Homo sapiens: one gene and its partners. The protein of the gene in region 3 interacts with the protein of the main gene of each other region in a pairwise test. Each region holds a gene or a part of one and is shown on either strand. Other genes may lie near its edges.

The links.
Region 1: the proteins of SUOX (region 3) and ZNF710 interact in binary tests that used the Homo sapiens proteins (3 or more experiments, as listed by UniProt).
Region 2: the proteins of SUOX (region 3) and MEIS3 interact in binary tests that used the Homo sapiens proteins (3 or more experiments, as listed by UniProt).
Region 4: the proteins of SUOX (region 3) and BAG4 interact in binary tests that used the Homo sapiens proteins (3 or more experiments, as listed by UniProt).
Region 5: the proteins of SUOX (region 3) and MORN3 interact in binary tests that used the Homo sapiens proteins (3 or more experiments, as listed by UniProt).
Region 6: the proteins of SUOX (region 3) and CTAG1A interact in binary tests that used the Homo sapiens proteins (3 or more experiments, as listed by UniProt).
Region 7: the proteins of SUOX (region 3) and SOHLH1 interact in binary tests that used the Homo sapiens proteins (3 or more experiments, as listed by UniProt).

What each region holds. Positions count from the first base shown.
Region 1 is NC_000015.10:90,076,815-90,081,323, reverse strand, and holds part of ZNF710 (zinc finger protein 710), read right to left. Parts: exon of another isoform or gene 1,665-4,509; coding exon 1,495-1,664; 3' UTR 1-1,494. UniProt on the Homo sapiens protein: May be involved in transcriptional regulation.
Region 2 is NC_000019.10:47,412,391-47,416,899, forward strand, and holds part of MEIS3 (homeobox protein Meis3), read right to left. Parts: coding exon 4,414-4,509; intron 4,313-4,413; coding exon 4,262-4,312; intron 2,712-4,261; coding exon 2,661-2,711; intron 2,477-2,660; coding exon 2,327-2,476; intron 1-2,326. UniProt on the Homo sapiens protein: Transcriptional regulator which directly modulates PDPK1 expression, thus promoting survival of pancreatic beta-cells. Also regulates expression of NDFIP1, BNIP3, and CCNG1.
Region 3 is NC_000012.12:56,002,595-56,006,478, forward strand, and holds the end of SUOX (sulfite oxidase, mitochondrial), read left to right. Parts: coding exon 1-126; intron 127-1,023; coding exon 1,024-2,433; 3' UTR 2,434-2,931; downstream 2,932-3,884. UniProt on the Homo sapiens protein: Catalyzes the oxidation of sulfite to sulfate, the terminal reaction in the oxidative degradation of sulfur-containing amino acids.
Region 4 is NC_000008.11:38,186,387-38,190,895, reverse strand, and holds part of BAG4 (BAG family molecular chaperone regulator 4), read right to left. Parts: intron 1-4,509. UniProt on the Homo sapiens protein: Inhibits the chaperone activity of HSP70/HSC70 by promoting substrate release. Prevents constitutive TNFRSF1A signaling. Negative regulator of PRKN translocation to damaged mitochondria.
Region 5 is NC_000012.12:121,648,242-121,650,448, forward strand, and holds the end of MORN3 (MORN repeat-containing protein 3), read right to left. Parts: 3' UTR 501-2,207; downstream 1-500. UniProt on the Homo sapiens protein: Assembles a suppression complex (suppresome) by tethering SIRT1 and MDM2 to regulate composite modifications of p53/TP53.
Region 6 is NC_000023.11:154,583,516-154,587,856, reverse strand, and holds CTAG1A (cancer/testis antigen 1), read right to left. Parts: upstream 2,725-4,341; 5' UTR 2,651-2,724; coding exon 2,382-2,650; intron 1,706-2,381; coding exon 1,571-1,705; intron 1,332-1,570; coding exon 1,193-1,331; 3' UTR 1,041-1,192; downstream 1-1,040.
Region 7 is NC_000009.12:135,692,279-135,696,862, forward strand, and holds the end of SOHLH1 (spermatogenesis- and oogenesis-specific basic helix-loop-helix-containing protein 1), read right to left. Parts: intron 4,528-4,584; coding exon 4,334-4,527; intron 2,986-4,333; coding exon 2,772-2,985; intron 2,180-2,771; coding exon 2,109-2,179; coding exon of another isoform or gene 2,068-2,108; exon of another isoform or gene 1,758-2,067; coding exon of another isoform or gene 1,692-1,757; exon of another isoform or gene 1,537-1,691; coding exon 1,319-1,536; 3' UTR 1,129-1,318; downstream 1-1,128. UniProt on the Homo sapiens protein: Transcription regulator of both male and female germline differentiation. Suppresses genes involved in spermatogonial stem cells maintenance, and induces genes important for spermatogonial differentiation.

The DNA of each region.
Region 1 (4,509 bases), on a different chromosome or scaffold from region 3:
TCCGGGTGCCCTAGAGTTCCTGAATGTGCTATTTCACTGCCCTGGGCCTGTCATCTCTGGTTCCAGGGGCAGGAGCTGGCGTGGGAACAGAGGGGAAGAGAGCAGGCGAGCGAGGGAGCTAGCTGTTGGCTGAGCAGAGTCAGCAGCCCTGACAGCCGAGGATGGGACATGGGACAGAGCAAGTCAGCGACTGCAGGAGCCAGGCAGGGGTGGAGGGCTTCCCAGCTCTGCCTTCTCCTGCCTCCCACCCCAGCCTGCTGAGGCTGCTGCCAGCGGCTGCACCTCCAGGGCCAGGGTGACAGTCCCCATGGAGCCCCAGTCCTGCCCGGCCAGGCTGCTCGGGGTGGGTGGGTAGGAAGCACGCACAGCACATTAGGAAGCTTACGCTTGGAAAAAGAAAATGCATCTCCATCAGAAAAGGTCATAGGTGACACACAGTTGGAAAGAAAAAAATAATAAGTTACCTTCAGAAGACCCCCTTTGCTCAAAAAAACCCTTGATTTCCCTCTGTGGGCTTTACTTTCCTTTTTAAAATACGTTGCTCTTTCCGGGAAGCTGCTGACTCGTGGCTATCCCCGTCGCAAGGTGGACACTGAGGAATGAGAAATGACTGCGGTCCCCCTCCCCGACAGGTGGTCCTGGGCCTCCCCCAAGGACAGCCCTTCTTGGTCCCCTGTGATGCCCTCACTCCGCCCTGCCCTGCCCCATGCTTCTGGTTTTGTTAGTGTGTGCCTGACGCGGGGCCTGTCCTGGCTTTGTTCCTAGTGGGGCCCCCTGGTGAGGCACTCCAGCTAGGGTCGAAGTGGACGACATGTGTTGCAATCCACTGTAGGGACACTCACTTCCAGAAAGGGATGTAGGACAGGGGTCTTCTGGGGGCTGGGTGCCCCCCAGCTGTCCTGCAGGCCAGGGCCAGGGCCACGTGCACACCTGGCTTGAGGAGCGCATGGGAGACCCCGGGAGGTAGAAGGCAGAGTGCCCTGCCTGGCGGTCCGTCGACAGGGCGGGGAAGGGGGCCTGGACAAGGTAGAGGTGGGCAGTACTGGCCAGAGGGGAGCTCAGACATCCTTAGAGGCAGGAGTTGGCCGTGAAAAAGACATGGCTCAAGTGGTCTCTTCTTCCAGTGTCAGGACCCCTGAAGAGCTCTGCTGGGCCTGGAGAGACCCCGAGGGCCGGTGCCCTTGTGACCTGTCCCCAGTGGCCCCACTTCTCCCACTCCCCACGGAAGCAGGCCAGGGAGACCCAGATCTGGGCCTCGCGTGTTCTCCTTCCCTTGCTGGGATGCCTGGGCCTGTGCTGGCTCACAGCCGGGGCCAGTAGTACAGTCTCCATTTGGTCTAAAGGTCCCTAGTGGTGCAAATGACTCGGGGAGGGAGGGCTCAGAACAGTGGGGCAGTAGCTTGTTTCTCGGCTGCAGGAGGTGCAGCCTGCAGCCCATGGGTCTCACCCCCATGCCCTCGCCCCCGGCCCCCGTTAGGGGTGGCCCAGCTTGCGCTATAGCACATTGTAGTAGGCCATCTCTTTCATGGCCTGTTCAGTGAGGACACTGGCCTCGGCGCTGCTGTCCACGCTCGCATAGCTGTAGGCGTTCTCCTCGAAGTCCTCCATCTCCTGCTGGCCGTCGAGCTCTGAAGGGTCAGTGCCTGTCAGCTCCATCATGGGGTCTGTAAGAGAGGGGCACAGTCAGACCTGGCTGCCATCTCTCGGGAGGAGCCAGTCACCCCCACGCAGGAAGCTGATGGCCTTTCTAAAGAGAGGGCTTCCCAGTCACGGCCTCCAGGAGTCTCAGCTGCCTCTCAGCCTTCCCACCCTCGGACGCCTCAGGGTCCTGTGGCTTCTAGCTGGGTGACCAGACCTAGGCCCCAAAGCTGAGTGTGGGGGAGTGGGTGCTATCAGTGAGGGCCTTTGTGGTGGAGAACTGCAGGCCTGGCCTTGAAGCCTTCTTTGGGTCATTCTTCCATTGACCCGTCAAAGTCACTAAGCCCTACTTATCCCTTCTCTGCAATGTTTCTCTGGCCACGGGAAGCTGCCTGCGTGACATCACCTTTGCAGCACTCATTAGCACCTGCTGCATGCCAGCCACTTCGCAGGCCTCGCCTCATCCAGCAATCACAACAGCCCCATTTAGCAGCTCAGAAGGCTGAGGTTTAGAGAGGTGAATCAACTTGCCAAAGGTCACCCAGCACATGCTGTTGTTCTGAGCCACTGTGCTGCTCTGCCTCACACTGCGGGAGGGTGAGGCCTCCTGCCGGCAGCTGTGCTTTTCTGTTGGTTCTAGCCATTGGTATCCTTGGGCCTGGCTCTCCAGGGACAAACACTCAGGGTAGGTTCATAAAGATATGTCAGGCAAAAACTCCTAAGAGGCCCCTTATAATTTTATAAAATTGAAATCTCATTATAAAGCTCTTACAGGGGAAGCCCAGGGTAGGATCTGGGGGAACTGGGAGGCTGGCAGGGGCTGTGGCTGGCCCCCAAAGTGCATTCTGGCCCTGTCCGCTGAGATGTGCGTGTTTTGGGGGAAACAGACCCCAGGCTGGGGGCAGCCCTGACAGGTCTAAGGCAGACTTTCTCAACCTTGGCACTTAGGGCCATAATTCTTTGTTGTGAGGCTGTCCTGTGCATTGTAGGATGTTTGACAGCATCCCTGGCCTCTACCCATGAGATGCCAGTAGCATCACCCCAGTTGTGACAACCATAAATGTCTCCAAACATGGCCAACTGTCACCTGGAAGACAAACTCATGCTCAGTTGAGAACCACTGGTCTAAGAGTAATCCCATCCCTTCCCAATTAGTGGTTCAGGAATAGGCACGTGACCCAATCCTGTTGAATGGGTCATGAGGAAAGGCCTGCTAGTAAGTTCTTAGCACCTTCTCATTGGTGTCAGAGAGCTAAGGGGAGCAGGCTGTCACTCTTCCACTGGATGTGAACAAGGAAGCACACACCCTGACGGCCACTGGCAGCCATCTTGTGACCATGAGGATATTCGCAGCTAATGCTGTGGACAGAGGAAGCCTCACCCTGATGTCACTGTTGGCAAGCTGAATCAGCCAGCTCTGAAGAGGGCCTAGACTTTGAACCATTTCTTTTCTCTTCTTTTTTTTTTTTTTTTTGAGACCGAGTTTCGCTCTTGTTGCCCAGGCTGGAGTGCAATGGTGCAATCTTGGCTCATCACAACCTCCACCTCCTGGGGTCAAGCGATTCTCCTGCCTCAGCCTCCCAAGTAGCTGAGATTACAGGCATGCGCCACCATACCCGGCTAATTTTTTTTGTATTTTTAGTAGAGACGGGGTTTCTCCATGTTGGTCAGGCTGGTCTTGAACTCCCAATCTCAGGTGATCCGCCTGCCTCGGCCTCTCAAAGTGCTGGGATTACAGGCGTGAGCCACTGCGCCTGGCCCCATTTCTTTTCTTTTTTTGACAAGGTCTTGCTCTATTGCCAAGGCTGGGGTGCAGTGGTGCAATCATGGCTCACTGCAGCCTCAAACTCAAAGTGATCCTCCCAACTCAACCTCCCGAGTAGCTGGGACGATAGGTGTGCGCTACCACACCTGGTCTTGAGCCATTTCTTAATGGATTTCCTTATTGTTTAGGCCAGTCTGAATGGGTATCTGTTACTTGTGCCTGTAGCATCTAACCCACTGTGAGTCTTCCGGACTTTATAAAACAAGGTCACTTGACCCATATCTTATAGATTTGGGCTGTTTCTTCCCTCAGTCCTAGTGCCACACCCTCATGTTACACAGCTGGTTTCAAAAACAAGCTAAATAAAGCACCTTGGGGGCCAGGCGCAGTGGCTCATGCCTGTAATCCCAGCACTTTGGGAGGCCAAGGCAGGCAGATCATGAGGTCAGGAGATCAAGACCATCCTGGCTAACACCGTGAAACCCCGTCTCTACTAAAAATACAAAAAAATTAGCCGGGCGTGGTGGCAGGCGCCTGTAGTCCCAGCTACTTGGGAGGCTGAGGCAGGAGAATGGCGTGAACCCAGGAGGTGGAGCTTGCAGTGAGCCGAGATCGCGCCACTGCACTCCAGCCTGGGTGAAAGAGCAAGACTCCGTCTCAAAAAAAAAAAAAAAAAAAAAAGCACCTTGAGAAAATTTCTACTTGTGGATCTCTGTACACCGTCCCCATTTTGTTTATTAAGTCTATGGTCCCGTCCTGTGGGCCCCAGAGAATAGTCTGTAGCATTTTTTATAAGGACATTGATCCACCTCCCCAAATGACAGCCCCATAGTTACTAGATCGTTCTGTCTAGAATGTATGCTGCCTTCCTTCTGCATACGCATCAAGCCTGGGCTTCCCAGACCAAGGCTGTATGAGGGAGGTGGGGACCTGGAGCCCAGTCATTCCAGGGCCAATCGCTTCCTTCTGTCATCTGGTACGGCCAGGAATAGAGGAATTCTAAGCATCCCTGGTGACTGAGCTCATATAGAAAGAGGTTGTGCCTTAACCACCCCGAGGAACAAGGTGTACAGGGACAGTCTTTTTAAAAAATCTTGTTTGGGTGG
Region 2 (4,509 bases), on a different chromosome or scaffold from region 3:
ACCCTTCTTTTTTTTGAGACAGAGTATCACTCTGTCGCCCAGGCTAGAGTGCAGTGGCGAGATCTCGGCTCACTGCAGCTTCCGCCTCCCGGGTTCAAGTGATTCTCCTGCCTCAGCCTCCCAAGTAGATGGGACTACAGGCGCACGACATAACACCCAGCTAATTTGTTGTTGTTTGTTTGTTTTTTTGAGACAGAGTCTTGCCCTGTCACCCAGGCTGAAGTGCAATAGCGCGATCTTGGCTCACTGCAACCTTCGCCTCCCGGGTTCAAGCAATTCTCCTGCCTCAGCCTCCTGAGTAGCTGGGATCAGAGGTGCGTGCCACCACGCCTGTCTAATTTTTTGTTTTTTTTATGTTTAGTAGAGACGGGGTTTCACCATGTTGGCCTGGCTGGTCTCAAACTCCTGACCTCGTGATCTGCCCACCTCAGCCTCCCAAAGTGCTGGGATTACAGTCGTGAGCCACTGCACCTGGCCTAAGTTTTGTATTTTTAGTAGAGCCGGGTTTTTGCCATGTTGGCCAGGCTGGTCTTGAACTCCTGACCTCAGATGATCTGCTCACCTCGGCCTCCCAAAGTACTGGGATTACAGGCATGAGCCACTGCGCCCAGCCATCACCAGTCTACATTTTCCTTTCTGTGACTGCAGTTTGAAGGTTTGGTTGTCCTGTTTGTGACACTGTTGTTGCGATTCCTGTGCGAGTGGGTATAAGGCTCCAGGACTTGGCCGGCTGCAGTGGCTCATGCCTGTAATCCCAGCACTTTGGGAGGCCGAGGCGGGAGGATCACTTGAAGTCAGGAGTTCGAGGCCAGCCTGGCCAACATGGTGAAACCCCGTCTCTACTGAACAAAAATTAGCCCGGTGTGGTCGTGGGCACCTGTAGTCCCAGCTACCCGGGAGGCTGAGGCAGGGGAATAGCTTGAACCCAGGAGGCAGAGCTTGCAGTGAGCCGAGATCGTGCCACTGCACTCCATTCCGGTCTGGGTGACAAAACAAGACTCCATCTCAAAAAAAAAAAAAAATGTCTCCGGGACTGTGTCTGGGTGGGTCTGGCTGTGGCGTGGTCGTCATAGGAGTGTATCTGAGGTGGTGTGGAGTGGGTGTGCGTGTGCTGTGAAGATGTCATTGCCAGGTGTGTTCACAGTAGGATTGCCTGAGTGTGGCTCTCATGCGACTTCTCAAGGCTTTGCCCCTGTACTCTGTATGGAGCTGTGGCAAGTCGGGATCCACACGGCTGTGCTGTGTGTGTTTTCCGTCTGGTGTCCTAAGTGGATAAAACTGTAGTGAGGCTGCGTCTGAGATGGTGCCACCTTACTGAGTTGCTTTGCTGGGTTTGATTCTTTTTTTTTTTTTTTGAGATGGAGTCTTGCTCTGTCGCCCAGGCTGGAGTGCAGTGGTGCGATCCTGGCTGACTGCAAGCTCCACCTCCCGGGTTCATGCCATTCTCCTGCCTCAGCCTCCTGAGTAGCTGGGACTACAGGCACCCGCCACCACACCCAGCTAATTTTTTTTTTTTTTGTATTTTTAGTAGAGACGGGGTTTCACCGTGTTAGCCAGAATGGTCTTGATCTCCTGACCTCATGATCCACCCACCTCAGCCTCCCAAAGTGCTGGGATTACAGGTGAGAGCCACCGCACCCGGCCTGGGTTTGATTCTTTGTGGCCGCATCTGAGCCTGTGAGTCTATTTCCAAGTCTGCGTAGATGAGTCTGGGGCCATGTGGCTGTGAGTGGTGTGTGCGTGTGATCTCGGCTGCAGCCCGACTGTGATGTGGCCAGGGTCACGTGTGTGCAAGAGGGCACCGTGGTCAGTCCGGGCCCAAGTGTGGTTATATCTGAGTTTGCCGGGCAGTACCTGGGGCTGTTTGGCTCTATGTCCATCTGTGTGGCTGGAGCGGGTGTGTGTATGCAGTGGACACATACTCAATTGAGAACGGCGTGCGGAACCCGGCTGTGTGTTCTATGCTGCTGTCGTATGGCTGGGCTGGGGGGCGTGTGTGAGTACCCGGTGGACGCTACTGTCTGGCTGTGAGCAGAAATGGCTGTTGCTGAGTTGGTGTGGCTGTATGTGGACCTGTGTGGGTGTAGCTGAATCTGTGGGTGGCATCTGCAGCCGCTGGTGTGCGTGTGTCTGTGCACTGTTGCCCAGCCGCATCCGAGTCTGCGTAGCTGTTGTGTAGTGGGTGTGTGGCTGTGTGCATATGCGTGCCCTGTGATCAGGCTGACTGTGGCTTCGTCTGAGGCTGTGTAGTGCACATGCGCCCTCATGCGGTGTCCAGGCACAGCTGTGGCTGCAGGACGATGCCTGGTGCCCGTCCCGGGCCCACCTGGTCTGGGAGGCTGGGGCAGGAGGCTGGGTAGTCCTCGAAGTCCTCCCTGCAGCCGCCGTCCCGATCCTCGATGACCAGGTCGATGGGCATCTTTCCCTTGAGGCAGGTGATGTAGCGGTGACAGAAGTTGTCGCACAGGTCGTGGACCTGGGGGGGCACCGGGGTACTGGGGGGGGCCACCCACGGGGGCAGGGCGGGGGTGCTCAGGGACGGGGGCGGCATTCTGCTTCAACTCCGGTGGGGAGAGAGCTGGAAGGTGGGGGGCAGAGGCGACGAGAGGGGGTGGGATGACAGGGGCAAGTGAGGGTGTGGGGAGGTGAGACGCGCTCACCTTCTCCAGCTCCAGCAGGTGGAACCGCAGCACCTGGATGGCCTGGATCATCTGAAAACGTGGGCGGGAGGTGGGGGGAGACAGAGGGAATTGGGGGAGGGAGCAGGGAGGAAGAAGGAAGAGGAAGAGAAGGAGGAAGAGGAGACACAGAGAAACAGAAAGAGTGAGACAAAATGACAGGGACAGGGAGATGCAGCAAAGAGAGACAAAGACACCAGGTGCAAGGGGGAAAGAGAGAACAGAGATGCAGCCCAGAATTAAGGAAAGAGCAGATGTTAGATTGAGAGAAGCAAGAGACGAAAAAGGACCCATCACAAGCGGGGAGAGCTAAGGTGAGCCATGCTGACTGGCATTCCCATCCTCTGCCTGTTGGCCCCCAGCTCCAGGCCCCACCCACCTGCAAGCTACATTTCCCAGAACACTTGCCAAAGGGTTTGGCCAATAGGAAGCCCTGGCAAGAGCTTGGGGAGCAAAGGATGGGAGAAGCTGGGTATTCCTCCCTCCTTTCTTCTCTCTCTCTCTCTTTTTTTTTTTTTTTTTTGATATGGAGTCTTGCTCTGTTGCCCAGGCTGGAATGCAGTGGTGTGATCTTGGCTCACTGCAACCTCTGCCTCCCAGGTTCAAGCGATTCTCCTGCCTCAGCCTCCTGAGTAGCTGGGACTACAGGCGTGCACCACTGTGCCCAGCTAATTTTTGTATTTTTAGTAGAGACAGGGTTTCATCATTTGGTCAGGCTGGTCTCGAACTCCTGACCTCAGGTGATCTGCTTGCCTCAGCCTCCCAAAGTGCTGGGATTACAAGCATGAGCCACCGCACCCGGCCCTCTTTTTCTTTCTTTCTTTCTCTTTCTCTAGCTCTCTATGAGAGACAGGGTCTTGCCCTGTTGCCTGGGCTGGTATGCAGTGGAGCTGATCAAGGGTCACTACAGCCTCGACCTCTTGGGGCTCAAGCGATCCTCCCGCCTCAGCCTCCAAAGTAGCTGAGACCACAGGTGCATGCCACCACACCCCGCTAATTAAATGTTTTTGTAGAGGTGGGGTCTCGCTACGTTGCCCAGGCTGGTCTCGATCCCTGGCCTCAAGCTATCTCCTGGCCTTGGCCTCCCAAAGTGCTGGCATTACAGGCGTGAGCTGCCGCACCCAGCCTCCTCTCCTTGGGCAGCAGTCCCTGCGCTCACTTTGGCATAGGTGCTGATCTTCTGACGGATGGAACATCAGACACTTTTTGAGCCCTATTCTGTGCCAGGTGCTGTTCCACGCACTTGAATCGCATTCACTCATTAAACCCCCACAGCAGCCCTCCAAGACAGACATTACTACCAGCCACACTTCACAGACGGGACACCAAGGCACGGAGATGCAGAGTGACTTGCCCTGGGTCACAGAGCTGGTGAGTGGCAGAGCTGGGATTTGAACTCGGGCCATGGGTCCCGTTCTCAGACTCTAGGCTGTACCACACGGCACGTGGGCAACAATCATGACGGTTTGGGGACATGGACCAGGTGGCCTTCTCTCTGCACCCCCCCCACCAACCCCAGGGATGGGGCGTCAGGGAAGGAGACCCATTGGAGGAGGGGGTGTGGGGGAGGGCTCGGGTCTCACCAGATTGTCCAGTTCTGGGTTGGAGGAGAAGAGGGGCCTCTCAGAGCGAACCTGGGAGGGAAGAGAGAGGCCGGCAGGGGGATGTCCCGCCTTCCACCCACCCCTCCTCGCTGGCTCTCTGACTCGGTGTGTGGTGGGTGGGAGGTGCCCACCTGCTTGGCAAAGGCAGCGATGTCCTCGTTGAAGGAATCAGAGGAGCAGACGTCACCTCCAGGGGGTGTCCCCAGCCCAGCTCCGGCCCCGTCACG
Region 3 (3,884 bases):
TCATTTCAGCCCCAGCGCCCCAGCCTCACCTTCTCTGGTGATAACTCCAGCACCCAGGGATGGAGAGTCATGGGGACCCTATTAGGTCTCGGTGCAGTGTTGGCCTATCAGGACCATCGGTGTAGGGTAAGTAGGGAAAGTGCTTCATTGTCAGAACAGACTGGGTGCAGTGGCTCACGCCTGTTATCCCAGCACTATAGGAGGCCAAGGTGGGTGGGTCACTTGAGGTTAGGAGTTTGAGACCAGCCTGGGCAACATGGCAAAACCCCATCTCTAGTAAAAATTAGCCAGGTGTGGTGGTACATACCTGTAATCTCAGCTACTTGAGAGGCTGAGACACAAGAATCACTTAAACCCAGGAGGCTAAGTCTGCAGTGAGCCAAGATCAAGATCAGGCCACTGCTCTCCAGCCTGGGTGACAGAGTGAGACTCCATCTCAAAAAAAAAAAAAAAATTGTCAGAATAAAGGAATCAGTCCTAGTAAACTCCACAGGCAACCCAGGCTGTGACCCATGTTCTTGTAGTTACCACAGAGTTCACAGTGACGCAGTCTTCATGCACAGTGGAGATGAAATCTGCTAATCTGCTACCTTCGCTTCCCAGTGGCCAACACCGTGGGTTGGGTCAGGGTGAGCTCAAGTGATTTCTTCTTATTCTTCTTCATTTTTTCTTTTTTTTTTTTTTGAGATGGAGTTTCACTCTTGTTGCCCAGGCTGGAGTGCAATGGCATGATCTCAGCTCACCACAACCTCCACCTCCCGGGTTCAAGTGATTCTCCTGCCTCAGCCTCCCAAGTAGCTGGGATTACAGGCATGCACCACCATGCCCAGCTAATTTTGTATTTTTAGTAGAGACAGGGCTTCTCCATGTTGGTCAAGCTGGTCTTGAACTCCCGACCTTATGTGATCCGCCCACCTCGGCCTCCCAAAGTGCTGGGATTACAGTTGTGAGTCACCACGCCCGACCAAGTGATTTCTTCTTAATAGTCTCTTCCCTTTTATCTTACTCCTTCCCTGCCAATAGGCTGCTCAGGAGTCAACACACATATACACTAAGGAGGAAGTGAGTTCCCACACCAGCCCTGAGACTGGGATCTGGGTGACTCTGGGCTCTGAGGTCTTTGATGTCACAGAATTTGTGGACCTACATCCAGGGGGGCCTTCAAAGCTGATGCTAGCAGCTGGGGGTCCCCTAGAGCCCTTCTGGGCCCTCTATGCTGTTCACAACCAGTCCCATGTGCGTGAGTTACTGGCTCAGTACAAGATTGGGGAGCTGAATCCTGAAGACAAGGTAGCCCCCACCGTGGAGACCTCTGACCCTTATGCTGATGATCCTGTACGTCACCCAGCCCTGAAGGTCAACAGCCAGCGGCCCTTTAATGCAGAGCCTCCCCCTGAGCTGCTGACAGAAAACTACATCACACCCAACCCTATCTTCTTCACCCGGAACCATCTGCCTGTACCTAACCTGGATCCAGACACCTATCGCTTACACGTAGTAGGAGCACCTGGGGGTCAGTCACTGTCTCTTTCCCTGGATGACTTGCACAACTTTCCCAGGTACGAGATCACAGTCACTCTGCAGTGTGCCGGCAACCGACGCTCTGAGATGACTCAGGTCAAAGAAGTAAAAGGTCTGGAGTGGAGAACAGGAGCCATCAGCACTGCACGCTGGGCTGGGGCACGGCTCTGTGATGTGTTAGCCCAGGCTGGCCACCAACTCTGTGAAACTGAGGCCCACGTCTGCTTTGAGGGACTGGACTCAGACCCTACTGGGACTGCCTATGGAGCATCCATCCCTCTGGCTCGGGCCATGGACCCTGAAGCTGAGGTCCTGCTGGCATATGAGATGAATGGGCAGCCTCTGCCACGTGACCACGGCTTCCCTGTGCGTGTGGTGGTTCCTGGAGTGGTGGGTGCCCGCCATGTCAAATGGCTGGGCAGAGTGAGTGTGCAGCCAGAGGAAAGTTACAGCCACTGGCAACGGCGGGATTACAAAGGCTTCTCTCCATCTGTGGACTGGGAGACTGTAGATTTTGACTCTGCTCCATCCATTCAGGAACTTCCTGTCCAGTCGGCCATCACAGAGCCCCGGGATGGAGAGACTGTAGAATCAGGGGAGGTGACCATCAAGGGCTATGCATGGAGTGGTGGTGGCAGGGCTGTGATCCGGGTGGATGTGTCTCTGGATGGGGGCCTAACCTGGCAGGTGGCTAAGCTGGATGGAGAGGAACAGCGCCCCAGGAAGGCCTGGGCATGGCGTCTGTGGCAGTTGAAAGCCCCTGTGCCAGCTGGACAAAAGGAACTGAACATTGTTTGTAAGGCTGTGGATGATGGTTACAATGTGCAGCCAGACACCGTGGCCCCAATCTGGAACCTGCGAGGTGTTCTCAGCAATGCCTGGCATCGTGTCCATGTCTATGTCTCCCCATGAGCATGGAAAGGAGCCACCTCCACCCCTTTCCCCACCCATTAGCCTCACTGCTTCAGAAAAATCTTTCCCACCTTTCAACTTCTTGGATCACAACTCTGGCCTTCCTAAGCCATACCCAAGTACACATATAGCACATTTCACCCAAGGACCTTCCCTCTTTGGACACTATGTTACATACCCCTCTTGGCCTTTGAACCTGTGCCAGGAAGTGTGAGCTGTTACAGCAAGGGGCTAGAAGTGAAAAAAGTAATTCTGGAGACAAGCACTATTTTCTCTTCCTACCCCACCTCCATTTCTAATGCCTACTGCCATCAAGGCCTTGTTTTGCTTTTCTTTTTGGATTGTTCAGAGAAATGTGTGTGGCATGTGTAAGAAAAGTGTATATACTATCTTATACTACCTCTCCAGGTTGCCAGAGAGTTGCGAGGAGAGCAAGGGGCACAACCGTCTCCCTTTATAGTTCTACTTTTCTAATAAATAGTCTGTTTAAGATCATAACTCTTGGGCCTGGGGAGTGAGCCTATTGCAGGAGGAAGGATGCATTTGTACTGGGATGTATAATGAGATTAGACCAAAACAAACAAAACTGGGGAGGAAGACAGAGAGGAAGTAGGCTTGTAGGTTAAGAAGTAGGGCTTCCGGCTGAGCACAGTGGCTCACGCCTGTAATCCCAGCACTTGGGAGGCCAAGGCAGGTGGATCACTTGAGGTCAGGAGTTCGAGACCAGCCTGGCCAACATGGCAAAACCCAGTCTCTACCAAAAATACAAAAATTAGCTGGGTGTGGTGGTGGGTGCCTGTAATCCCAGCTACTTGGGAGGCTGAGGCAGGAGAATCGCTTGAACCAAGGAGGCAGAGGTTGCAGTGAGCCGAGATCACACCCACTACACCCCAGCCTGTGCGACAAAGCGAGATTCTGTCTCAAAAAAAGGGGGGCTTCCTTCTCTGAGGTTTGGCAGTATCTGCAGGGACACCTAGGTGATTGACCTCAGGATACCATGAAGAGAGGAGAGGTGACAAAAACATGTACCCTCCAACTCCTTTCCCCAACAGTTCCAATGCACTTGGCAGGAAAGGCAAAGGGTGCTAGGAGTTTAAAATCAATATTGTCTTAGGAGGTCGTGAAAGCAAAATAAATCTTGAGGCCCCAGAATCACTAAGCTAAAGGGAAAAGTCAAGCTGGGAACTGATTAGGGTAAACCTGCCTCCCATTCAAAGTCATCCCTCTGCTCACTGAGATAAATGCATACCTGATTGCCTTCTTTGAGTGGAATACAACCATTTGCCTCTTTTTTTTTTTTTTTTTTTGTAGAGACAGAGTCTTGCTCTGTCACCCAGACTGGAGTGCAGGAGTGCGGTGGCACGATCTCCGCTCACTGCAACCTCCGTCTCCGGAGTTCAAGCAATTCTGTCTCAGCCTCCCAGGTAGCTGGGACGACAGGCGCACACCGC
Region 4 (4,509 bases), on a different chromosome or scaffold from region 3:
ATCTCAGCTACTCAGGAAGCTGAGGCACGAGAATAGCTTGAACCCAGGAGACAGAAGTTGCAGTGAGCAGAGATCATGCCACTGCACTCCAGCCTGGGCCACAGAGCAGAGACTCCGTCTCAAAAAAAAAAAAAAAGACAACCCACCAACTTGGGCTGGGCGCAGTGGCTCAATCTGTAATCCCAGCACTTTGGGTAGCTGAGGCAAGAGGATTGCTTGGGGCCAGAGACCAGGAGTTCAAGACCAGCCTGGAAAATAATGAGACTCAGTCTTTACCCAAAAAAAAAAAAAAAAATGTCAGGTGGGCGTGATGATGGGTGCCTATAGTCCCAGCTACTCAGGAGGCTGAGAGGTGAGAGGCAGAGGCAAAGTCCAGAAATTCAAGGTTATGGTGAGCTATGATCTATGATTGTGCTACTGCACTCCAGCCTGGGCAACAGAGTAAGACCCCATCTTTAAAAAGAAAAAACCTACTGACTTGATAACCACACACAGAATATAATTCAAATAATTCTTGAACAGTTTTCTGAATGGACATCTTTAGTGGTACCTTTCTAAAAGCAAAAGAAATTTAAAAATATCTTAAACTCTTCATATAATGTTATTAGTAGTGATATTACTATCTTAATTTTTAAACTATATTGTGTGTATTGTAGAATAGAATAAATACATACAGTAGTGTTATTGGGAACCGATATTGTCACGAGGACAAGGAAAGATAAAATATGGAATGGGGCAAAATGAGGAAGAACTGGGGGATAGTGAATGTGGTGGTGTCATTACAAACTCACATAAGTAAAAAACATAATTTGGCTGGGTGCAGCGGCTCACACCTGTAATCCCAGCACTTTGGGAGGCCAAGGCAGGTGGATCACGAGGTCAGGAGATAGAGACCATCCTAGCTAACACGGTGAAACCCCATCTCTACTAAAAATACAAAAAATTAGCCAGGTGTGGTGGCGGGCGCCTGTAGTCCCAGCTACCTGGGAGGCGGAGCTTGCAGCAAGCCTAGATCACGCCACTGCACTCCAGCCTGGGCAACAGAGGGAGACTCCGTCTCAAAACAACAACAACAACAACAAAACGTAATTTAACCTTTTATGCAAAACAAACAAATATGGATAAAAGTGACAGTGTGCCAGTCCACACAAAGGATTTAGGAGTCGCTGCAAATTCTAGCAACCCTCTTGTGTTCCCATGCCCTCCACAAGACCTACATTATCTTATATGGGAGCTGTGTTTTCAACTGAAGTCCCAGGATGAGAAGACACACAGGTAGACCTGAACTGAACCTGGGGCCTAGAGAAGAACCACTAGAGTGGACTCACAGAACCTGAGCAAGAAATAAATGTTTATCATTATAAGCTACTAAAATTCTGGAATTGTTGTTTCAGTATAGGAAAAGTCAATTAATGCAATAACTAACAATCAAGTTGGTAACATAACCACAGAGAAAAAAGAATTACTTCAAATGACTTTTAGCTCACGTTATTTTGACTGTACGTCCTCAGTGGAATTTATTCTCTAAGGACAAGCTGAACTGCAAAGAAACCGAAACTGCATCCATTAGTTGTTACTCATAAAACTGGTATTCTTATTTTCAAGTTTTACTCACTACCATCCAATTCACCTATTTAAAGTATATAATTCAGGCCTGGCATGGTGGCTTACGTCTGTAATCCCAACACTTTGGGAGGCCGAGGTGGGTGGGTCACTTGAGGTCAGGAGTTCAAGACCGGCCGGGCCCACATGGTGAAACCTCGTCTCTAATAAAATACAAAAATGAGCTGGGTGTGGTGGCGGGCAGCTACTCAGGAGGCTGAGGCACGAGAATTGCTTGAACCCAGGAAGCAGAGGTGTAGTGAACTGAGATTGCACCACTGCACTCCAGCCTGGGCAACAGGGTGAGACTCCATCTCAAAAAAAAAAAAAAAATTAGCCGGGCATGGTGGCACACACCCGTAGTCCTAGCTACTTGGGAGGTTGAGGCAGGAAAATTGCTTGAACCTGGGAGGCGGAGGTTGCAGTGAGCCAAGATCGTGCCACTGCACTCCAGCCTGGGTGACAGAGCAAGGCTCCATCTCAAAGATAAACAAATAAATAAATAAAAAGTAAATAAAAAGCTGATATTAAAGTAGCCACTCCAGCTTTCTCATAGTTGCCTTTTGCATATTTTTATATATATATACATATATATGTATACATGTATATATGTATACATGTATATGTATACATGTATATATGTATACATGTATATATGTATATATATGTGTACATGTATATATATGTATACATGCATATATATATGTGTATACACGTATATATATGTATTTATATGTGCATATATGTAATTTTTAATTAATAAAAGTAGTACATATTTTTGGGATACATGTGATATTTTGATACATGTATATAAAGTGTAATGATCAAAACAGGGTAACTGGCATATCTGACACCTCAAACATTTATCTTTTCTTTATTGCATTATATTTCTTTTTCCATCCATTTACTTTCAAACTATTTGTATCTTTAAACCTTAAGTGTGCCACCTTTAGACACCATATAATTGGATCTTGTTTTTTTTTTAATCCAGTCTGTCTTCTGACTAGATTGCTTAATCCATGCACATTTAATATTATTGATATAGCTGGATTTACATGTTTTATTTTTACTTTTTGTTTTTTATATGTCTCATGTGTTTTTGTCCTTTATTCCACCTTTACTGCTTTCTTTTGCATTAAGTGAATATTTTCAAATGTAGCATTATAACTTAATGATTATACTTTTTTTTTCTTTAGCAGTTACTCTTGGGCTAACAATACACTTCTTCTTCTTCCTTTTTTTTTTTTTTTTTTTTTTGAGACGGAGTCTCACTCTATCACCCAGGCTGGAGTGCAGTGGCACGATCTCGGCTCACTGCAAGCTCCGCCTCCCGGGTTCATGCCATTCTCCTGCCTCAGCCTCCCAAGTAGCTGGGACTACAGGCGCCCGCCACCACGCCCGGCTAATTTTTTTTTTTTTTTTTTTTTGTATTTTTAGTACAGACAAGGTTTCACCATGTTAGCCAGAATGGTCTCGATCTCCTGACCTTGTGATCTGCCCACCTTGGCCTCCCAAATTGCTGGGATTACAGGCGTGAGCCACAGCACCCAGCTGGGCTAACAATATGCTTCTCATCAGAATCAGCTTCTGATTTATACCAACTTAATTCCAGTGAGATACAGGAATGCTATTCCTATATAAGTCTGTTCCTTTTCCCCTTTTTTGTGATTTTATTGTAATCCACATTATGTCTACAAATGTTACAAACTCAACATTATATTGTTATACTTATTACTTTATATAATGTCTTTTAAAGAATCTGAGAAGAAAAGAGCATATTTGCATCTTTTGTTATATTAACCTTGTTATTAATCATTTCTGATATGCTGGTGTGTTCAATGGTGTCTGACACTTCTCCAACACATCAGTCTTTTTTCTCTCCTTCATATTGCATAATCTGTATTGATCTATCTTCAAATTCATGAATTCTTTCTTCTGTCAGTTCTAGCCTATTGAACTCCTCTAGTTAATTTTTCATTTTAGTTACTGTACTTTTCAACTCCAGAATTTCTATTTGTTTCTTTTTTAATATATAATTGCTATCTCTTTATTGATATTCCCTATTTGACATGACATTATCACACACCTTTCTTTGCTTCTTTAATCATAGTTTTTTAGTTATTTGAACATATATAATGGCTACTTTGAAGTCTTTGTCTATTAAATGTGACATCTGGTCACTTTCACAATCAGTTTCTGTTACCTGCTTTTTTTCCAGTGTATGGGTCATACTTTCCTGTGTCTTTGCATAGCTCATAATTCTTTGTTGGAAACTAGACATTTTAGCAACTCTGAGTACTACTGGTCCCACCTTTTCCACCTTAGGCTTGTTATTGTCATTTGCTCATTTGTTTAGTAACCAGCTGGATTATTTTTGCAAAGTCTGTTTGCCCTCAAACTTCAAGTATGAAGTATGTGATATTGCTCATTAGAAGGCACAGCCTTGGGTATGCCCACAGTCATCCTGGATGACAAAGATTTTTGTAAGACTTTCTTTGAGTGTATCTTTCCTTGACCACATCTAGTTGTTAAAGCTTCACTAATTTCCAGCTGATTGCTCTACTGGTTTTAATAACACCCTGAGGCATAAATTGCTCCACAGACTGAGTAGATCAAATTTGGGTCCCTCTAAAGGGACAGTTAGTTCCCAAGGTCAGTGTTTGAGAGTTGTTCTGATACCAAAGGGCTCCTCCTAGCTTCTTCTTTTCCTGGTTCTCTCCAGCAAACTAGCTGGCCTACTAGTTTATCCTGCATCTCCAGTGAATCTAACCAGTCTCTTCCCTATTGCTTTGCACAACAACCTCCGCAGTTTTTTTGACTTTCTCCACACTCCTGAGCTTCTCCATACTTTGTTCCTTTAGGAAAAGATTAGGAGCTACCTGTTTTACAGCCTACTTCTGCTTCCAG
Region 5 (2,207 bases), about 66 Mb from region 3:
GGGTTCAAGGGATTCTCCTGCCTCGGCCTCCCGAGTAGCTGGGACTACAGGCATGAGCCACCACGCCCGGCTAATTTTTGTATTTTTAGCAGAGATGGGCTTTCACCACACTGGCCAGGCTGGTTTCCAACTCCTGACCTCAGGTGATCCACCTGCCTCAGCCTCCCAAAGTGCTGGGATTACAGGCGTGAGCTACCGCACCCGGCCGTCCTGGACATCTTTTACGTATTCCCCTAGGACAGCCACCTCCCTACTTCTGTAGGGATGCAAGATCCAGCTGGAATTATTTCTGGGCTAGGATCCTGTTGTCTTGGGTTCTTGTTCCTAAACTGGCCGGGACTCGACTCATCAGCCAGGCTTGTCAAATGCAGGTTTCGAAGCCCTTGGAGGATTCTGATTTAAGTAGGTCTGGGTGTGTCTTTGGAATCTATTTCTAACAAGCACCCCAGGTGCTCTCACACCCAGGCAACTTAGACAAACACTCCTAGTTAGGAGCACAGTCTCTTTAACTTCATTTTTATTTACATTTTGAATACATAATACATTCACATGGTTCCAAACACAACACTGAAAAGTTGTTCTTCAGCTCCTGTTCCCAAGTCCCCAATTCTCCCCAGAGACAACCATCTTTGCCAGTTTATTGTGTTTAAATCTAGCGACATTTTGTACATAAACAAGCACACCCTCTTCCAACATTTTTTTTTTTTTTGAGATGGAGTCTCGCTCTGTTGCCCAGGCTGGAGAGCAGCGGCACGATCTCGGCTCGGCGTGATCTTGGCTCACCACTACCTCCGCCTCCTGGGTTCAAGTGATTCTCCTGCCTCAGCCTCCTGAGTAGCTGGGATTATAGATGCACTCCACCACACCCAGCTAATTTTTGTATTTTTAGTAGAGACAGGGTTTCACCATGTTGGTCAGGCTGGTCTCGAACTCCTGACCTCTTGATCCGCCTGCCTCGGCCTCTCAAAGTGCTAGGATTACAGGCATGAGCCACCATGCCCTGCCCCCACTTTTTCTTTAAAAATGGTAACCCTTTACACTCTTCTGCACATTAAGAACAGCTAGACCTAAGTTTAAGCACAGTACTAGCTTGATGACTTGTGATCCTCCCTGAACCTGTTTCCTCCTCTAAAATGGCAGTAATAGCAAGACACCTCACTGTTGTCGGGGAGTGCCAGGAGAGAATGCTTGCTGCGAAGCTGTCAGCACACGGCCTGGAATAGAGTGAGTGCTCCATATCTGGAAGTTATGATTAATTCTGCATCCTAGGGTGGCCAGGCGGGGCTTCCCAGTGCCAGAGGTACAGACTGAGAACCACACCCTTGGTGAGGCCACCCTACTTATGACTTAGGGGGCAGAGAGAACCTCAGTAAGGTCAGTGGTGTTTATTGAGGCTTTACTATGTGCTATGTGCCTCTTGCTGAGGTCTTAGCTAGAATCGTGGTATTTCAGGGTTTCTCAACATTTTTTTTTTTTTTTTTTTTGGAGATGGTGTCTCGCTCTGTCGCCCAGGCTGGAGTGCAATGGCGCAATCTCGGCTCACTGCAACCTCTGCCACCCAGGTTCAAGCAATTCTCCTGCCTCAGCCTCCCAAGTAGTTGGGATTACAGGTGCTGAATTCTTTTTTTTTTTTTTTTTTGTAGCATGGTGATATTGCACTATGCTTAACCGCATCCCTGGTCTCTACTCACTCAATGCCAGTAGCCTTCTTCCTGCCTGTTGTGACATCAAAAATGTCATACATTGCCAAATGTCCCCAAGAAAGAGTGGGGCTGAGGGAGGACAAAATCCTACCCACAGTTTAAAACCACCGCCTTATCTCATCCTCACAGTAACTAACCACAGTAACCCCAGGTGGTAAGTACTGTTAATGCCCCATATTGCAAGTGAGGAGACCAACAGAACAGAGTTTGGGTGACATTCCTGAGAACACACAGCTCCGAGATTCACGCCCAGGCACTGTGACTCCAGAGCTCACCTGCCCATTATGCAAGAACATCTGATCTTGGCTGGGAGCAGTGGCTCACACCTGTAATCCCAGCACTTTGGGAGTCCAAGGCGGGCAGATCACGAGGTCAGGAGATCGAGACCGTCCTGGCCAACATGGTGAAACCCTGTCTCTACTAAAAATACAAAAAATTAGCCTTGGTGGCAGGTGCCTGTAATCCCAGCTACTTGGGAGGCTGAGGCAGGATAATCGCTTGAAC
Region 6 (4,341 bases), on a different chromosome or scaffold from region 3:
AAAAATTTTTTTTTTGACAGAGTCTTTTTCTGTCAACCTGGCTGGAGTGCAGTGGCATGATCTCGGCTCCCTGCACCCTCCACCTCCTGGGTTCAAGTGATTCTCCTACCTCAACCTCCCAAGTAGCTGGGATCACAGGCACACACCACCACACCCTGCTAATTTTTTCTTTTCTTTTCTTTCTTTTTTTTTTTTTTTTTTGAGACAGAGTCTTGTTCTGTTGCCCAGGCTGGGGTGCAGTGGCACCATCTCGGCTCACTGCAACCTCCACCTTCCAGGTTCACGTGATTCTCCTGCCTCAGCCTCCCAAGTAGCTGGGATCACAGGCACACACCACCACGCCTGGCTAATGTTTTTTTGTTGTTGTTTTTTTGTGTGTGTATTTTTAGTAGAGATGGAGTTTCACTATGTTGGCCAGGCTGGTCTCCAACTCCTGACCTCAGGTGATCCGCCCGCCTCGGCCTCCCAAAGTGCTGGGATTACAGGCATGAGCCACCGCACCCGGCCTTTTAATGATTTTTCTACAGACAGAATCTCGCTACATTGCCCAGGGTGGCCTCCAACTGCAGGTCTCAAGCCATCCTCCCGCTTCAAGCCTCCCACAGTGCTGGAAATACAGGTGTGGGCCACCATGCCCAACCCATATCACATGCTTAACAGTGATATGATAATGCTGGTTCTATGCATCTATTCAAGTACGTTTTCAAAGAATTTTTCCCAAGTAAAAAAGCTCATATGTTCAATGAAAACAATTTGGGAAAAAATTTAATGCTGACCTGGAAAAACATTATATATGCTACTGTCATATATTTAACATATAAATGCAAGTATATTGAGGAAAATATTCTAAAATGTCCACAGTAGTTAATGCTGAATGGCGGGACCCAGTGGCTTTTCATTTTCCCCCATTTCCCAAATTGCCTCCCGTTACCTTGTGCTACTTCAATCTGTGAATCCCAGAGCCTCCCCTGCAACCCGAGGACAAGGGCATGCAAGTCCGAAGGTGCCTTCGCTCGCCGAAAAGAGACTCAGACACGGAATCGTAGCTCAGTTTTATTTTCTACAGAAACAAACATGTAAGCCGTCCTCCTCCAGCGACAAACAATCAGGCCCCCACAATGAACTGGCCACTCGTGCTGGGACCATTCCCTAGGGGAGGAGGCATGACCTAGGAAGGGGCGCCAGGCTGGGCTTAGCGCCTCTGCCCTGAGGGAGGCTGAGCCAAAAACACGGGCAGAAAGCACTGCGTGATCCACATCAACAGGGAAAGCTGCTGGAGACAGGAGCTGATGGAGAGCTGCAGTTGGCGGTGGTCTGCAGCAGTCAGTCGGCTAAATGTGAGGGGCAGAGAACATCACGTTAAAGGCGACACCTCTGCACCCATCTCCCTGGGCTCCCTCGGGTGGCGGCGGGCCTGGTGTACCAGGTCTCTGTTCTGAGACCCTGTGCTGGGGTGTTCCCAGGTTTCTAGCAGCCTGACCGTGGGGTGTAGGCGGATCCCAGCCCCCACCCTGCCACGCTGTGACCGCCACCCACCCAGGCCCCATCCCTGTCCTGGTCCTGAACTGACATAGTCAGTATGTTGCCGGACACAGTGAACTCCTTCAGAAGCACCCCTGGCACGGGAAGCGGTGGGGCATCCTGGGCCAGGCTCCTGCGGGCCAGCTCTGCTTCCATGGGTGTCGCGAAAGGCATGGCGAGGTAGCTGGTGGGGGCCCAGTTAAGGCATCCTCTCCTAGGACTTGGCCTGTGGCTCCGGCCTGCTGCTTACCCCAGGCCAGCTTCCCCCTCCCCCACTCCCCCACCCCTCCCCCCTACCCCGGATTGCCCAGCCCATCCCCCCCAGGCTGTCTCCCCAGGCACTGGCCCAGTAGCACACCCCACCCAGCTGTCTTGGTTCCCCACTTTCCTTTGCTGCACCCCAAGCTGACTCCTCCATGCCCTTACAAGACCCCTCCCCACCCTGCCCCCTGTGGCATCACCCGGCCCCCTCCTCATCACTCGACCCTCCATCCCAACCACCTCCCGCCACCCGCTCCCATCTTGCCCCCTTCCCCCCACCTCCTGATCCCCTCCTACACCTGGGTCCCCCTATCTCCTGGCCCCTGCTCCCCTCCCCGCATGACCCGGTGCCCCTCACCCAATCACCCAGCCCCTCTCCCCCACCCCCACCCCCTCTACCTCCCAGCCCTTACCTCCTCCCCTCCTCGCAGCTGGCCTCTCATATCCCCACCTCCCAACCCCCACCCCCACCCCCACCCAACCACTTACTCGCATCTCCCCCGCCTCCTCCCCCACCTGGCCCTGCCCTCCCCATCTCCCGGCCCCCACCTCGCCACCAGAACTGTCAGAACAGAACAGAACAGAACAGAACAGAATACAACTCAAGCAGGCGGCTCTCCGGCCCCCTGGCCCCGCATCTGCAGCATCCATTCAGCCCTGAAGCCGCGCCGCCATGCGGACCCCGCGGGGCGCCTCCTCCCGGCCCCGAGGCCCTTGCTGCCCCTGCGCCCCGGGGACCTCTGCCGCCCGTGGCACCCGCCTCTCCTGGGCCGCCAGCATTGCCCCCTGGGCCATCAGGAATGCCAGGGCCTCCTGGGCCATCAGCATCGCCCGTCGAACCCCCTGTGCCCCGGCCTTCGGCCTGCATGGCTCCGGAGCCTCTGCCCGGCTCTCAGAGAGAAGGTCAGGGCCCACGAGGATGCGGAGGCAGAGAGGCTGCAGGAAGTTCCGCCCCCTGGCGTGAGATGGGCAGCCCGGGATCCTCAGGGCGCCTGCGCACAGGGGCCCTACTTCCGGCCCTGGGAGACCCCGAGTGAGCCCCGGAGCACGTGACCGGTTCTCACCAACCCCGCCCCTCCCCAAGAGAGCCCGGGCCGGAAGGTGGCCGCAATGCCAGCTTGGACCCCTCACCCCTGAGCAGCCGGCTGTCCGCCGGACCCCTGTCCCGGGAGCCCTGCAGGGAGTCAGGCACTGCGGGGCCCAGCCTGTCCCATCCCCCGGGTCTCCCTCACATCGAGGAGCAAGACGGGCCTGGGAACACGGGGCCGGGACTGTGCGGCCATCGTCCCGGACCCTGCCTGCCCTGTCCGTCCTTGGGGGAGCGCCCAGGACAGACCCCGGGGGGCAGGCCTCTAACTGGGCTCAGCAGCCTCCGTCCCTGTCCTGGTCGCCCAGCTGGTGGGGTAGCTGGAACTGCATGTCTGGTGGGCGTGGCCTCGCGCCAGCCAAGGTCTCCCAGGCGCCAGGTCCAGCCAAGGTGGACGGGAGGGCCCAGCGGGACCCGGGGCCGGATCTCACTCCTGGGTTCAACGGGTTCTGTCCCTGTCCTAGTCGCCCCGCCTGGTGGGGGAGCTGGAGCTGCGTGTGGGGTGGGTTGCGGGTGGCCTCCCACCAGCCAGGGGCTCCCGGGCTCTAGGCCTGGCCCAGGTGGACAGGCGGGACCTGCTGGACCTGAGGCTGGGTCGGGCCTGGCTCCTGGGTTCGGCAGTATCAGTCCCTGCCCTGGTCGCTCTTGCCTGGTAGGGAGCTGGGAGGTGACCCTGTGTCTGCTCAGTGGTGATCTATTTGTGTGTCTGGAAGGGGGTCAAATCCACGGGACAGGTACCTCTAGAGGCATGCAGGGGTGAGGGCGGCACGGCCCCGGGAGCTGAATGTCTGTGCCAGGCACACCTGTAGCAACAGGAGGTGACCAGACAGGGCCTAGCCCTGAGGAAGGGGGAGGTACTGAAATCCAAACCACTCTCCCCCACCTTCCAAATCCAGGAATCAGCAGCCTCTGCACCTGGGAAAAGCATATTGGCACTCATGTGGAAACTAAAAACGTTGATCTTTTGGAGGTAGAGCAGAATGATGGTTACCAGACGCTGGGAAAGGTGGGGAGGGTGGGGAGGTTAATGGGGACAAACATATAGTTGCATAGAAGGATTAAGTTCTAGTGTTTGATAGCACCGTAGAGGGACTATAGGTAATTATTTATTGTATATTTCAAAATAGCTAAAAGATAGGAAATGTTCCCCAAAAAAAGAAATGATAAATGCTTGAGGTGGTGGAGATCCTAAATACCCCGACTTGATCATTACATCGTGTGTGCGTGTGCATGTATCAGAATATCACATGTATCCCATAAATATGCAGAGTTATCATACATCAGTTAAAAATGTTTTTACTTACAGAAAAGAAAAATTCACCCAAGCTCTTGCGTGTACCTCCAGTTTATTATTTTCACTGCTGTATTTCATTACATATATTTCATTAAATGATGAATTTTAAAAACCAGAGAACACAACTTGTTAACACCTGGAATAGCTGAAAATCAGACATAACCCGGTTAGTGATTGC
Region 7 (4,584 bases), on a different chromosome or scaffold from region 3:
AGCAGCCTCGTGCTCCCGGCTGGGCCCCGACCACCACTCTGTCCACCAGAGGTCTGAAGGCTCCTCCGCCTCTGTCGCAGGGTCTCAGCAACACGGGCCATCAGTGCCCGGTGGCATTGGCAACCCAGGGATGCTGTTCTGCAGCCAACAGCCTCAGGCATCCAGCTGGACCTGAACCTCCTTCCAAGGGACCACGATGGGTGCTCAGAGCCAGTCCTGATGGCCTTGGGCCCCTCACCAAAGCCCCCTGGGGTCTGCCCGCCACCCACAGCCTGGTGTCTGCACGGCGCTTGCTCCCTGGAGCCTCCTAACCTCCTGCCCACGGCAGGCCCTCCTAAGCCTTTGCCTGAATGACTCAGAGGAATGAATGGAACATTCTGGCTGGCTGCGGGGGCGGCTGCATGCAGGCACAGGGCTGCAGCCTGGTGGGGCTCTGAGCCCACGCTCAGACCTGTTTCCTCTACCTGGGCGACAGAGACTGCGCTGGCCCCTGGAACACTGCCCTGGTGGGCGTGCTATCCAGATGGGGATAGCAGGGTGAGACCCTGAGCATCCGGGGTCGGAGACCAGCACCACCTGTGCTGTGGCTGAAGAACAGGCGGGCACCTAAGCACCATCCAAAGAGCTCGGCCCTTCCTCTAAGTAACCTGCCCACCCCGACCCCGAAGTAACCCAGCTCCCCTCCAGATCTCAGGGTGTAGGGCTGGGAATAGGACCAGACACTGAGGCCAGGTGACCTCTGCCCAGGGTCCCCTATTCCCCATGCACAGTGAGTGCAGAGATGACCAGCAGTGGAGGTGGAAGCCAGCCCTTCCCTTGGAGCCCCCTGGGCTGGGAGAGGACAGCAGGCTTTTCCTAAAGGACTCTCCTCCCTGCAGCTCTGAGTGGCAACGAGCAGGAAAAGCAGCTCACAGAGCAGCCTCCAGGCACCAAGACCGTGAGGCCACATCGCCTCCAGGGAGCAGGTCCCACAGCACCCCTACCCCAGGGCACCAGGACTGGGTTATTCCGGGATTTCGCAGTGCTGAGAACTTTGGAGAACAAAATCCCCGGCAGCTGCCTGAACGCTGAACGGAGGTGGCGCGATCCGCCTGATGAATCAGGCTAATTACACAGAAGCCACACAGGTTTTGCTTCCTCCAGGAAAACTGCTTTCCCTCTTTAATATTCACTATCCTCTTCTCACAGCCTGTAAGCCTCGCTCAAATTAGGGTGCAGCTGCAACCCAAACCCAAAATAAAATGCCCAAGCACGCGACAGGGACACACACGGCTCCAGATCCACCGGCCCCGCCCGCCTCCTCTCCACAGCCTGGCTGCTAGCAGGCAAAGAAGTCAGGGAAGATGCTCTCCACCTCGTCCTTCAGGGCCAGGCCTGCACAGTCCACATCCAGGCCCCACGGCTCCAGAGGGCTGTCCTGGAGCTCCTGGGAGCCAAGCTCAGGGTCCCCTAGGAAGCCTGGCTCTCCAACATCCAGTGGACTGCTCTCAGCTGGGGCCCATGCAGGGCCACTGCCTCCTCGACCCTCCAGAGACCCTGGAAGCAAACAGGACACATCGGCAGGGCAGGCAGGTGCTCTGGGAGCTTGAGGCAGACAGGTGGGGTCGGAGGAACAGAGCTCCCACCTCAGTCCGTCTGCCCTGCCCTGTCCCCGCTGCACAGAGGCTGTGATGAGGTGGGTGAGCTCATACCTGGTGGCCCCAGACCCAGGACACCTGTTGGACCAGAACCAGGAACGGGCTCCCAAACACTAAATCCTAAATGGAATGGACACACGCCATGTCACAGGGCCATACACCTTTGCCGGCCAGCACGGGCTGGACCAGGGGCCTCGCTGACACAGGGTCAAGGGGAAGAATACAGGGCTCCAAGCACCGCCAGCTCTCATGCAGGCTCGTCCACATCACGTTCACTCACACACTCACATATCACCTATAACGCTCAATACCAGACACGGCCCAACAGCTAAGCACCAACGGTGGAGAAAACGGGGGCTCAGACACAGACCCTGGGGCCCCCTGACACACGCTAGGCCTGAGTCCCAATTCCCCAGCTCATATCAGGTGCTTACGCGGGGGGACCAGCCCTGAACCCAGGGCCCCACTCACCCGGCCACGAGCTGGGACCAGCAGTCAGCAGGAAGGACGTCCCATCGTCCACATCAGACCCCAACGCAGACCTGGAAGCGACAAGCTCTTCCTCAGTGGCCACAAGCGGACCCAGACCTTGGAGCTCAAGGAAACATTTGGGCCCAAGTCCTGCAAAGGCAGCTTCGAATGCAAAGATCTAGGCACCACTCCTGACAGGCTCCACCCTGCCCAGCGGGGAGAAATGCAGAGGCCACAGCCGCTGAGGACACGGGCCAGCGGCTCTCGCGGGTCCCGATCCGTCCTGCAGAGCATCTCTGCCGGTTTCTCTCCAGCCACAGTCTCGCTCTTCTCGTCCCCTCCCTCCCCCTCCCCTCCCCCTCCCACACCCCAGCTGGTATGTGCTCACGAAACACAAACTCATTTTACTATCAGCCAAAACAAATGACAATTAGGAAGACAAAAGTGTTTCCAGAAACACACATTAGAAAGCCACACGGCAAGGCTGGCTGGTCCTGTCCTGGGCTGTGGCCTTGGCCTCCCTCCCACGGGCACAGAAGCAGAGACGGAAGCTTCCAGATGCCGAGAAAGTGGGCCCAAGCAGGACTGGGAGGAGGTGGGACAGGCTCACACACACATGCTCGCTCACGCACACACAGGCGTGCACACCACCTGGGCACTCACCCGGCCTCCTGCGCCAGCATGGGGTCCTCCTTGGCTGGCTCCCCCAGAGGTGCAGCCCCCATGGCCAGGGGCCCAGCCTGGCCCAGCCAGCCAAGGGCCTCCCCGCTCATCACGGGCAAGGTCTGCTGCTGCGAGAACGGAGGCCAGGACAGGGGTGGCCTCACAGCCTTAGGAAGACTCCGGCCTGGGGGCCACGGCACCAGGCTGGAAGGTTCTGGGAGAGAAGTCAGATGCGGGTCAGCCTTCCCTGCCCAGCCCCACAGGCTGCCCCCGAGGACCTCGTGACTCACGGGCTCGGTCCACTCACACTGACCGAGCACCTGCTCTGCTGCCTGCACCCTGCAGCAGGGACACGTGGGAGGAAGCTCAGAAGCGGGTGGCACACAGGTAAACAAGGAAAAGATGAACACCCAGAGGTGGGGTGCCCAACACCTGGGGGCCAAGGGCTTCCTAGAGGGGGTGCTGGCTTGGCCAGCCGCAAGGGGCTTGGATCTGGGGACCCTCTCAGCACCGCCTCCCGGACCTCGAGCTCTGCCCTCAGACCTGCTCGCTCCCCACGTGCCTGGCTGACTCCTGGGTTTCCGGAGTGCCCTGATGACCCCAGCTCTGACACCAGCCCTGCCAACTGCATGACTGCTCCCAGCCACAGCTGGGAGCCAAAAGGCACAGCCCTGCCTCTCATGGCACCTGGCGACTTCCAGACGCTACCACAGCAGGGGCCGAGGGGAGTTCGGTCATCAGAGGCGCCCTGCAGGGCCACCCACAGAGGGACCAGAGCTCAGCTGTGGGTGGCATTAGGGACAAAGGCCCCGGGTGGCAGAGGGAACAGCTGGGAGGCCTCGGGCCCCTGGCTCACCCCAATTACAGTTCCTGCCATGGCCAGGCAGCATAGGCGGAAGGGCAGATGGGGCGCCCCGGGGAAAACAGATCTCCGGCCACATCCAAAACACACCAGCCACAGGCGGGTGAGAGAAGCAGGGCCACAAAGCTGGACGGAGCAACCAGGATGGGGCCGAGTCCCTCTACCTCCCCACTTCCCACAGACCCAGGACAGAACCAAGTCCCTCTACGTCCCCATGCTTCCCAGCAGACCCAGGGAGTGACCAGGATGGGGCAAGTCCCTCTACGTCCCCATACTTCCTGCAGACCCAGGGAGTGACCAGGATGGGGCCAAGTCCCTCTACGTCCCCATGCTTCCCAGCAGACCCAGGGACCCAGGGAGGAGAAGATCAGGCCCTCCCTTCCCTGGAGCACATGGAAGTCCCAGGAGGAGACAGGATAGAAGGAACAGCTCCCATGGTGGCCTTTGCCCAGGACTCTCCCTTCCTCGAGCCACACTTCCTCCCTCCCGAGAGCACACGTCCTCCTTTTCACAAAAGCAGGCACAGCCCGGGGGCCTTGAATCAAGCTCATCCCTCAACACGTGGGTTTCTCACCAACACAAGGGCCTGGGAAAACTTCGAACCCCGTTTGCAAACAGCCCCCATTGTTCTTAGGGCTAAAGCACAGCCTGGCGCCGCTCCCCAGGCCAAAGGCACCCCACATGCACACCCAGGACTCACCTGAGAAAGGGGGCAGCCCACCCCGCACCTGGCACAGCCCCAACAGTGCCTCACACTTGTCCGTGCCCAGGGACGTGCAGCTCGCGGGGTCCCACTGCCTGGAGGACGCAAGGATGTGCGGCACGGGCTCTGGGCTGGCCGACGCTGGATCCAGGGACCAAGGACTTTCCAGAAACGCCTTCACATCTGGGGTTCTAGAAGGAGCAACATGACAAGGATCCTGGGTCTATTCCCCAGCCCCCTGGAAGGCT